Regions from separate parts of the Homo sapiens genome. Here region 1 is linked to region 2. A link means that fine-mapping ties the variant in region 2 to the expression of a gene that starts in the linked region. Tissue or cell type: hypothalamus. Region 2 holds a variant in brackets; the other region holds the start of a gene. All regions are shown on one strand. Distances are between the middles of the regions. Region 1 holds the start of NSUN2 (NOP2/Sun RNA methyltransferase 2). Region 2 overlaps LINC01018 (long intergenic non-protein coding RNA 1018).

The links. PIP is the estimated chance that this variant, and not a neighbour inherited with it, causes the effect.
Region 1: NSUN2 starts here. The variant in region 2 is fine-mapped to the expression of NSUN2 in hypothalamus (GTEx, PIP above 0.99).

The regions. Positions count from the first base shown.
Region 1 is chr5:6,630,625-6,635,947 of GRCh38, forward strand. It overlaps NSUN2 (NOP2/Sun RNA methyltransferase 2), which reads right to left and starts at 2,420. Exons shown (of 19, transcript NM_017755.6): 1 at 2,260-2,420; 2 at 1,975-2,132; 3 at 1,249-1,353. The coding sequence starts at 2,355. It overlaps SRD5A1 (steroid 5 alpha-reductase 1), which reads left to right and starts at 2,816. Exons shown (of 5, transcript NM_001047.4): 1 at 2,816-3,245. The coding sequence starts at 2,953. RefSeq lists enhancers at 2,516-3,027, 3,028-3,539 and a silencer at 2,663-3,052.
Region 2 is chr5:6,586,108-6,591,487 of GRCh38, forward strand. LINC01018 (long intergenic non-protein coding RNA 1018) reads left to right here. Exons shown (of 5, transcript NR_024423.2): 5 at 121-2,393. Among named protein-coding and RNA genes, the nearest start is that of LINC01018, 6.7 kb to the left of the region's middle. The variant G/A (reference allele first, on the strand shown) is at 1,947.

The DNA of each region.
Region 1 (5,323 bases), 44 kb after region 2:
ATGCTTATCTGTGATAGGGACAATGAAAATCCAAATAGCCAATGAAAGAAAAACAAGCAAATCTGTACCCCATGATTAATGAAAATCTGACCTTGATTTGCGAACACTAAAGGTTATCCAAAAAGGAAAGATAACACTACGTACTGGAATAGTCAAAACCTCAAAAGTTGATGCAAAACGCTTAATTTGGCAGGGCGCAGTGGCTCACGCCTGTAATCCCAGCACTTTGGGAGGCCGAGGTGGGCGGATCATGAGGTCAGGAGATGAGACCATCCTGGCTAGCAAGGTAAAAACCCGTCTCCACTAAAAATACAAAAAAATTGGCCGGGCGTGGTGGCGGGCACCTGTAGTCCCAGCTACTCGGGAGGCTGAGACAAGAGAATGGCGTGAACCAGGGAGGTGGAGCTTGCAGTGAGCCAAGATGGTGCCACTGCTCTCCAGCCTGGGCGACAGAGTGAGACTCCGTCTCCAAACAAACAAACAGACAAACAAAAAACGGCTTAATTCACCTTTTCGTGCATTACTTTTCTGAGAACTCAATACCTCAAAGTTAATAATAACGACTTTCCCACTTATGTAAGTTAACTGAAGGACTGGCGCCTCCGGAGTTCTCCAAGCATCTTTACAAGATGCTATCAGCACAAGGGATCACCTTCATACAACTGAGACTAGAACCGAGCCATGAGGAATAGGTAACCCAGAAGGCACCTCCAGGACAGGTCAAGAAAGAGGTAGCTCCCAGAGTAGTAGCACGCTTGGGTGCTGAGACTCGGAAATGCTACATTGGCTGGTGCAGTCTGTACTGCGAAGTACCAGGAGACAACCTGACAGCAGACAGTGGTAACCTGTCTGTAATGGAAAACACTAAGAGACTACCTACCAGGAGACTGTTGTCAAGCTAAGTCTGTCCTTTTTCTGAAGGCAAAGCAGCCACTCTGCAACAGTTTTGATGTGAGAAAACAAGGGCTGTAAAAGGGAGCTGGCGGAAGTGGTGACATAAAGGAAGAGGCTGGATGTACTAGGAAGAGCTGGCTGAAATCAGTGACTCATAAAGCTGCAAATCGCAAATCGCATGAAAACTTGCGTAGCAATATAATGTTGATAAAAGCACCAGGTACTAGAACATTAGGATGTTTGCAAAGTATACCCAAGCTCTTTAACAGCAAATGCAGTACCAAGAAATATAATTCAAGTGATAGAGATTAATATCCCAAATAAATATTCGGCATGAAGCACTGTGGTACCTACCAACTCAGTGGCTGTGGAACTTCAACTTTCTGACCGTCCACCTCCAGGTCCTCCAATTCCTTAAAATATTTGTTCTTTAAGCAATGGAGAATCTCTTTTGCGTGGCTATTGAAAAATAAGGAAGTTTCAAACTGATCTAAAAAACTAAGTTAATACATTGTATCTTCTTAAATTTAAGACTGCAAGTGTTTTAAAACTAAAACCAACTTTTGCATGGAGAGTAAACATTCTTTAGTCACTACTTTTACACTGTATGCCTTCAAAATTTAAGCAATCCACACTGTTTGAGCCCTAAGAGCAACACTGCATTCCTTCTCTCCTAAGCATATCCTACCGTTAAGTTTTACTTGCGACTCATTTAGAAAGATGTAACTACAAAGATGGAGGGGGGGCGCGGAGGAGGGGAGAACCAAGGGGTTTTATGCATTCTCTATAAATTCTCTTACGTTCCAAAAGGTAAGACCCTCAGCTTCCCTCCTGGAAGATTCCCCAGGAGCCGAATCTTCCTCAGATCTCATTTTCATTTCGTCTTCTAACCTTGCGCCTGCAATACCTCCGTGACCATTTCATTGGACCCTGTGCTCCCCACCTCAATGCTTCCTGAATCCAAACCGCTGAAACGCCACGGTTCTCTGGCACTGTAACACTTGTCGAAGAAAACACCGTCGCCTTTAACCTCCAGCATCCTGGCCCCAACTCCCAAAAAATCAGGCACTGCCTCCCTACCTTTTGTAACCAGTAATTCTTAAAGTGGCCGGGAGCGGCTCCCTGAGAGCGTCCATGAACTGGCCCCACTCGCCCTCGGGCACGATCTTGAGCTCCTGGTAGTAGTGCTCGAACAGCTTGTTCTCCTTGACGATCTCGGGGTAGCCTCCTTCCCAGCCCTGAGGAAGGAAAGAGACGTCTACCCCGAGGCCCAAGGAGCCGCCCCCTCGCCGCCGCCTCGCAGGCCTCGGGGTCCGGGAAGCCCAGGAGGAGCCCCTGGCCCGCCCGCCGGGTCCCGGCTCCTACCGCCTCGCCGCGCTTTCCACCACCCTCGGCGCCATCCTCCGCGTCCTCCGGCCGCTGCTGTTGCTGGAGCCGCCGACCCCGCGACCGCCGCCCCATAGCCCACGCGGCCGCGCACGCAGCACGCAGAAACCGGCCCGCCACGGCCAGAACTCTAGCCCTACACCTCCCGGGACTTCCGGCCGGAAACCAAGGCCCCACGTGTCCGGGCCTGGTCCTTTCGGGGACCTTTGGGGACCGTCCAGGAATAAGCCCAAAGCGCACAACCCGTCTTTCAGAAAAGCGGCGTGACAGGGAAAACAGCGAACAGCTCTAAGGGGAAAAAAATGCTCCAGGAAGCAGCCACAAAGGCGTCTCCGCGCGAAGCGCCCAGGTTTCCCACGCGGGCTCAAGGAGCTCCGCGGACAGCCTGAAGCCGCGCGTGCGCAGAGCGGCGCGGGGTTACTGCGGCCCCGGCGTGGGTGGGGCGCTTGCAGGTCCCTCCCCGCGCAAGTGCTCGCCCCGCCCCCGGGGCCGCACCCACAGCCCCGGCTACCCCGGAGAAGCCTGACTTGAGAACCCTTTCTGCAGAGTCCCGGCAGTGCGGGACTCCGGTAGCCGCCCCTCCGGTAGCCGCCCCTCCTGCCCCCGCGCCGCCGCCCTATATGTTGCCCGCCGCGGCCTCTGGGGCATGGAGCACGCTGCCCAGCCCTGGCGATGGCAACGGCGACGGGGGTGGCGGAGGAGCGCCTGCTGGCCGCGCTCGCCTACCTGCAGTGCGCCGTGGGCTGCGCGGTCTTCGCGCGCAATCGTCAGACGAACTCAGTGTACGGCCGCCACGCGCTGCCCAGCCACAGGCTCCGAGTGCCGGCGCGGGCCGCCTGGGTGGTGCAGGAGCTGCCCTCGCTGGCCCTGCCGCTCTACCAGTACGCCAGCGAGTCCGCCCCGCGTCTCCGCAGCGCGCCCAACTGCATCCTCCTGGCCATGTTCCTCGTCCACTACGGGCATCGGTAACGTCCCCGGCCCCCGGCCCCCTACCCTACTCCCGGCCCGGCGTCCTCTCCGACCCTCCCCTCACTGCCCGGTGCCCTCTCCCCGAAGCCTCCCCCACCCAGATGCCCTCTCCCTGCCAGATCCCCCGGGGCGTCCCCCATCTGCACGGGTGCCCTTCCCCGAGTCCCCCGGCCCCGGGAGTTTGGAAACCAGAAGGGATTCGTCTGGAAAGGGCGGGAAACAAAGGACTGGAAGGGAGTGATGGAAAAAAACATGATGAAACTGATCTGGAAAGAGCCACTCAGTGGTCCTAGGTTTGGTTTCCTTAGCCGGGCGCGGTGGCGCCTGTCTGTGATCCCAGTTACTCGGGAGTCTGAGATGGAAGAATCGCTTGAACCCGAGAGGCGGAGGTTACAGTGAGCCGAGATCTCGCCACTGCCCTCCAGCCTGGGTGACAGAGCGAGACTCTGTCTCAAAATTAAATATATAAAAATAAAGAGTTAAAAAGTAAAAATGTAAAATAAAAATGAAGACTAGATTTTGTTCCCTTAGATCACGACTGTGGGGGCGGGGGGGAGGGGGTTGGCCTAGAGTCTAATGCTGATGGTCGGTCTTGAGGGCCACTGGTTTCTACTCCTTTCTGCCGGTTCCCCTTTTGGTATCTTTGGTGATGGTGGAGCTGTTTTCTCCCAGCCAAGTGATCAGCTGCAACTGGAAACCTGCTGTCCTAAAACTGCCTAGCAGTTTCTCCTTATAGGCTTGATCACTTTCAGAGACTTTCATGTCCACCTTATGCAAGGGACCCCAGGATTGTGGGGGTGGAAAGCCAGCAACCTTAAACCTTAAACAAACGAAGTCTTAAAGATGACTTCTAAATCTTTCAAGGTTTTTGTTTTTTTGAATATTTGAAAACTGGCTGTGTCTGAAATCTTCAAGCCTTCTAATAAGTTGGGGTTCTCTCCAGGTCGTATCTTTTGGCTTTTACACAGCCAAAGCAAACGACAGGTCGAAAGTTCAAAATTAAATTTTAAACGTTTTCATTCAGGCTCTGGAAAGCTTCACAGTTAAAAAGGATGTCTCTACACCCAAGGAAGTTGAACTCACTGGCTGTGTGACTATGGGCAGTTTACCCAACCTTTCTGATTTGGGGTCCCACCTTAAAACACTCACTTCCCAGAGAGACAGGAAGAACTCAGTGTGTGTTTATAAGCCTCTCTTCTTTCTCCTGGTGTCATGCATTCCAGCGAAGAGAAAGTACACAGCTCCACTACTTGGAACCAGTGTTGTACCCAGCACAGTTTTTGGTACCTGAGTTCCCTGAAAACCAGCACCTTACCCTGTAACTGGTGCAGTCTGTGTCCTCAGTGTGCTTTGATGACTTGCACTTTAAACAAGGGCAAGTCAACATTCATCAGAGGCTTAGTGAGTACTGTGTGCCTGAAACTCTTTACCATTGCTTTATTTTTTTTTTGGAATGGGATCAACCATTGCTACAATTTGAATATTAGTCAGACTTTGCTGTTTGTATATACTTTTCCATAAATATACCAGAAGCTGTATGTCTGTTTCTTTATGGCTAAAAGCAATCTCAGGTCAGAGTATTCGGTGCTATCCTAGTCCCATCAGTCATGACCCTGGATGAGTTACTAAGCTGCCCCGCAGCAAGGTTTCCCCACCTGTAGAATGGGCATGGTGATGGAACCCCCCTGTGGGATCACATGAATTTAGAGCAAAGGCAACTCCCTAAAATGCTTGCATGGTGCTGGCGCATCTGCGTGCTCAGTACACAATACCTAGCACTATTTTGCATTGCTGTGAATGCACATCCAGACATGTACTCTGTGTGTCATTCATGTGCACTGCTGCCAGCCTCATGTGCCAGCAAAACTGTGGTGTTGGAAATCAAGGGAACACTTGACAAAGTTTTGCCTGACATCCCAAGTGGAAGCTTTTTAACTTGAGACATCATGTTTCATTGTACCTACATTCACTCAAGCAGAAAAATGAATGCAGCCTCCCAAAGGGCCAGAGTCACCTTGAATGATAGAACTTGAACAGCTCATTCATACAGAGTAGAACACGGAGGCACAGCATG
Region 2 (5,380 bases):
TCCTCCCTGTCCCTCAGATCTGGCCCCAACCCTCAGGCAGACCCGTGTCTTCTCTTCCACCCCCTCCCTCCTCCTCCCTGGCACTCAGCCTTGCTCTTCTACTCTACCCTCCCTCCCCAGGCAGCGCCTCAGCTTGGTTAGCTCCCTTAAGGACTGCGGCTCCCTTAGGACAAGGCTCTGTCCCTCAGAGCACTGAGTGCGATCTCATGCTGGCATCTTAGAGACATTGTATTCACCAGGTAAGATGGATTCACATCTGCTGGGTGCACGAACACTTCCTCCTTCCTTGCCACCAGCCAGCATCACAACCAGCCTGGCCAGGCTCCCGTCCCAGCCCAGCCTAGCAGCTAACCCCAGCTCCATCCCCCAGCAAGCCCCTCTGCCTGCACCTCAGCTTCTTCATGGAAGACGAGTCAGGTCATGATGCCACCAGGGAGCGTGTTTCCATGTTGAACTGAGACACTAAGCCCTTGACAAATGTTGGCCAAGAAAAAAAAGGGGCTCCAAGAGGGGAGCTGTGGCTCAGGTAGAAGACGGTGAATGAGCATTGCCTGAATCAGAGTTAGCTACTCTGGTTACACAGGTGTCCCCGGCAGGTTGGTCAAAAGCCCTTCCCTGAGTCCCGTGATAAGTGTGGGGAGGGAGGCAAATCAAAGACCCCTACACACCTCCTGCATGGATGGCCAGAGCGCTGGTCCCACCTCCTTCCTTCCAAACTGCAACCCCGATCAGCACAGCAGAGAAGTCTCCTGTGGCAGGGACCAGTAATTCAGTGCTTCCCCTGGAGAGTCTGGGATTGCACAGAACACCAGAGGCTGGGGATTTATTTGTTCACCAACATTCATTCAACAAACACTTACTGAGGCCAACACTGGGAATGGAGACGAACTTCCCTGTCCTCATGGAGCTTGCTTTCAAAAGGGAAGGAGGCAGACAGTAAACAAAACAAGCAAGTCAATATACAGCATGATGCAGAAAAGGTGTGATGCCACCCTCTTGCCTGAGTTTATAACAAGCAGATGATGTTGTCCTAAGAATTAATTTCAGCCGGTGAAAGAGTACAGGCAAAAAACGTGGTCTCGGACTTTCCGGTGATGCTTAAGAACATAGTTGCAGTTTTTGTTCTGATTCTTTGTGCATCTCGCGCTAATGAAGGATTCTGCCATGATTGCCACCTCTGGAGACGTCACAGCCAGCACAGCCATGACCAGGGATGAACTTGGCCATTGTCCAGCAGCACCATGGGAGGACCAGCTGCTGTAAGTGAAGGTCATCATCCATCTGATTTGCTGGCTTTTTGCAACTACTGCGGTGGAAGTCTTAGAGTAGCCACCTTCTCTGTACTCAGACCTTCACTTCGCCAGATGTCAGCACAGCAGTGTCAGCAGCTTCGTCAAACACAAACACCACCACCTCTCTGGATCAGAAGCACATGGAAAGCCCACCTTGCAAGAAGACCCAGCTATTCCAAAAGTACCCATATCCCTGTAGCATCCTCTTAGCTGAATGTCTCTACTCCTTAAACTTGTACCACTTTGAAGAGTAAAAATTTAAATTCATTCATATTATCATTTTTTAGTTTTTAGTATAAGTGGAGCTGTTTATCGGCCATTTGTATGTCCTTTTCTTTTTTTTGCAAATTACTCCTTTGCCAAATTTTCTCTCAAATGACTCATCTTTTTCTTATTGATTTGCAGAAGCTATTTACATATTATGGATGTGGGGTGTCTAACATACACAGCAAATACTTTGTCCCAGTGTGTCACTTTTTAAAAAAATTCTTATAATGTCTTTCATCTTTAAAAAATTATTAAGCTATTGTGAGCTTTTATGCCTTTTCAGTTTATTTTCTTACATAGATAATTATATGAAGTGCAAATAGGGGCAGTGTTAGTCTCATCTTCCCAAGGCTGCACCTCAGATGTGGAATGTTGACAGCAACATCT[G/A]TTACCTTGTTTCTGTTTTTAGGATTTTAGCGTTAAGGCCAGGCATAATGGTTCATGCCTGTAATTCCAGCACTTTGGGAGGCCGAGGTGGGCAGATCACTTGAAGCCAGGAGTTCAAGACCAGCCTGGCCAACATGGAGAAACCCTCTCTATTTTTAAATACATTTAAAATGTTAACAATTAAAACAAAATATTTTACCGTTAGTATGATGCTTGATACAGGATTTCTGGTACATACGCCTTATCAAATTAAATAAGTTTCCTTTTACTCTTGTTTATTGTTATTTTTTAAAATAAGGAATGAATCTTGGATTTTAGTGTATCAATAATTATATTTTATTCTTTAACTTCATAATATTCCTTATAATTCCTTATGTCATATTAAAGATGTAAATTCATATATATTTTATCATACAAATGATTAATAAATGTATAAGCATGTCATTATATGAGAGTATACTTCCTTATGTTTCATGAATGCATCGTGACAGGCTCATTTTTTTAATCACTGCTCGATTTGTGCCACTGATGTTTTATGAGGCCTATTTATGTCGGCGATGGTAAGAGTGTTAGTGTTTCCTCTGTGGGTACCTTCATCTACCGTGAGTCTCCTGGATATGCTAGCATCACAGAATGGCAGGCGGAAATTTCCAGCTTTTTCTATAGAATGAGTTTAACACAGAAAATAGATCTTTCTTGAAAATGTGGTAACACTTACCTGGAAACCTCCCTGGCCTAGTGCCTCTTTTCTTGGGGCTAAAGGGTATGAAAATGGGTAGATCTCCAAATGCCTTTTCCATTTTTCTATGAATATTATTCCTACTCAGGCTTTTCTCTTCTTGGAACAATGCTGCTAACTTGTGCCTACTTGGCTATTTCTACTTCATGTATATTTTCAAATCCATTGGTGTGCAAGTGGACTTAGTATGTTCTTGCAAGCGTAAGAGTCTCCATTAGTGTAATGACCTTCTCTCTTTCTGTTTTCCTTGAGCAATTAACATATATTTGTCTTATTTTATTGGTCTTCTCAAAAGAATATGCTTTTGAGTTATTGATCACCTGTACCATGTGTTCTATCACACTATTCTGTGTTTACTCAAGCTCGTTAATTGATATTCAAATCCCTGTATTTTGTCAATTTCTGTTAGATGCTAGTATTAAAAATTTTTTATATAACCGTAGATTTGTCTATTTCTTATTATATTGGTAACAGTTTTTGCTTTACCCAATATTTTGTTCTAATGTGCTTTTTTAAGTTCTTTTTGAATTATTTAGTATTTTTTGTTTATTGTTGTAAGGTGCTTTTTTAAGTTCTTTTTGAATTATTTAGTATTTTTTGGTTATTGTTGTAAGGTGCTTGTTTAAGCTCTTTTTGAATTATTTTGTATTTGTGGTGATTGTTGTAAGGTGCTTGTTTAAGTTCTTTTTGAATTATTTTGCATTTTGGTTATTGTTGTAAGGTGCTTGTTTAAGTTCTTTTTGAATTATTTTGTATTTGTGGTGATTGTTATAAGGTGCTTAAATTCTTCTTGAATTATTTTTTATTTTTGATTATTTCTGTAAGGTGCTTTTTTAAGTTCTTTTTGAATTATTTTGTATTTTTTGGTTATTGTTGTAAGGTGCTTTTATATGTCCTTTTTGAATTATTTTGTATTTGTGGTGATTGTTGTAAGGTGCTTTTTTAAGTTCTTTTTGAATTATTTTGTATTTTTTGGTTATTGTTGTAAGGTGCTTTTATATGTCCTTTTTGAATTATTTTGTATCTGTGGTGATTGTTGTAAGGTGCTTGTTTAAGTTCTTTTTGAATTATTTGGTATTTGTGGTGGTTCTTGTAAGGTGCTTGTTTAAGTTCTTTTTGAATTATTTTGTATCTGTGGTGGTTCTTGTAAGGTGCTTGTTTAAGTTCTTTTTGAATTATTTTGTATTTGTGGTGATTGTTGTAAGGTGCTTAAGTTCTTTTTGAATTATTTTGTGTTTGTGGTGATTGTTGTATGGTGCTTGTTTAAGTTCTTTTTGAATTATTTGCTGTTTGTGGTGATTGTTGGAAGGTGCTTAAGTTCTTTTTGAATTATTTTGTGTTTGTGGTGATTGTCACAAGGTGCTTATTTAAGTTCTTTTTGAATTATTTTGTGTTTGTGGTGATTGTTGCAAGGTGCTTATTTCTTTTTGAATTATTTTGTGTTTGTGGTGATTGTTGTATGGTGCTTGTTTAAGTTCTTTCTGAATTATTTTGTATTTGTGGTGGTGGTTGTAAGGTGCTTAAGTTCTTTTTGAATTATTTTGTGTTTGTGGTGATTGTTGTAAGGTGCTTTAAGATTAAGTGCTGTCATGTGTTCTTGACAGGTTATTCCTTTTATAAATATCAAATGTAGAAAGTTTCCCTGTTCCCCTATTTTCTGTGTCTTGCCATGAACTGTGTTTTTTTGATATATTGACATACCTAATACCTATCATAATTTAAAACACACATACTCCTTGACCAATAAATACGACTCCTAGGAATTTATTCTAACGCACACACGTGTGCAATATTTGAAATGAAAGGTACAGCGTTATCATTGCAGGCTTTGTAGGTAATAACAAAGGATTGGAAGTAATCCACATATGTATTCACAGGGGTCTGGATAAACAAGGGACCCTCTGCCACTCTGGAAAGAATGACCTCCTTATGTACTGATAGGAAATGATCTGTCAGACCTGTGATTAAACAAAAACAAATCCTAGGAACAAAACATTCTGAATAGATGTCAATATTTGTGTAACACGGCTGGGCAAGGTGGCTCATGCCTATATCAGCACTTTGGGAGGCCAATGCAGGCAGATCATTTGAGGTCAGGAGTTTGAGAGCAGACTGGCCAACATGGTGAAACCCCATGTCTATGAAAAATACAAAAATTAGCTGGGTGTGGTGGTGCATACCTGTAATCCCAGTTACTGGGGAGGCTGAGGCAGGATAATCACTTGAACTTGGGAGGTGGAGGTTGCAGTGAGCCAAGATCATGCCACTGCACTCCAGCCTGGGTGACAGAGTGACAACCTGTCTCAAAAAAAAAAAATGTTTAACAGGGGAAAATCATATCTACCTATCTGCACAGAATATCTCGAGGGATGGACAGGAAACTGTTACTGCTGGCTGCCCACAGAGGATGGGGCTGGGCAAGGGGGTGGGAGGGAGCATTTCACAGAGCTGAATCTCTCAAATATTGAACTCAGTGTTTAACTATTCAAAACATAATTAAAATTAAGTATCCACACCTGCATCTTGCATTAGCATTTGCCTACGTATGTCAGTCTTATTTCCATTTTGTGAGCTGTTTTGCATTTTCTGGTTAGTATGTTTTCTTGCTATTTCTATCTTTTTTTTTTTTTTGAAACGGAGTCTCGGTCTGTCGCCCAGGCTGGAGTGTAGTGGTGCGATCTTGGCTCACTGCAAG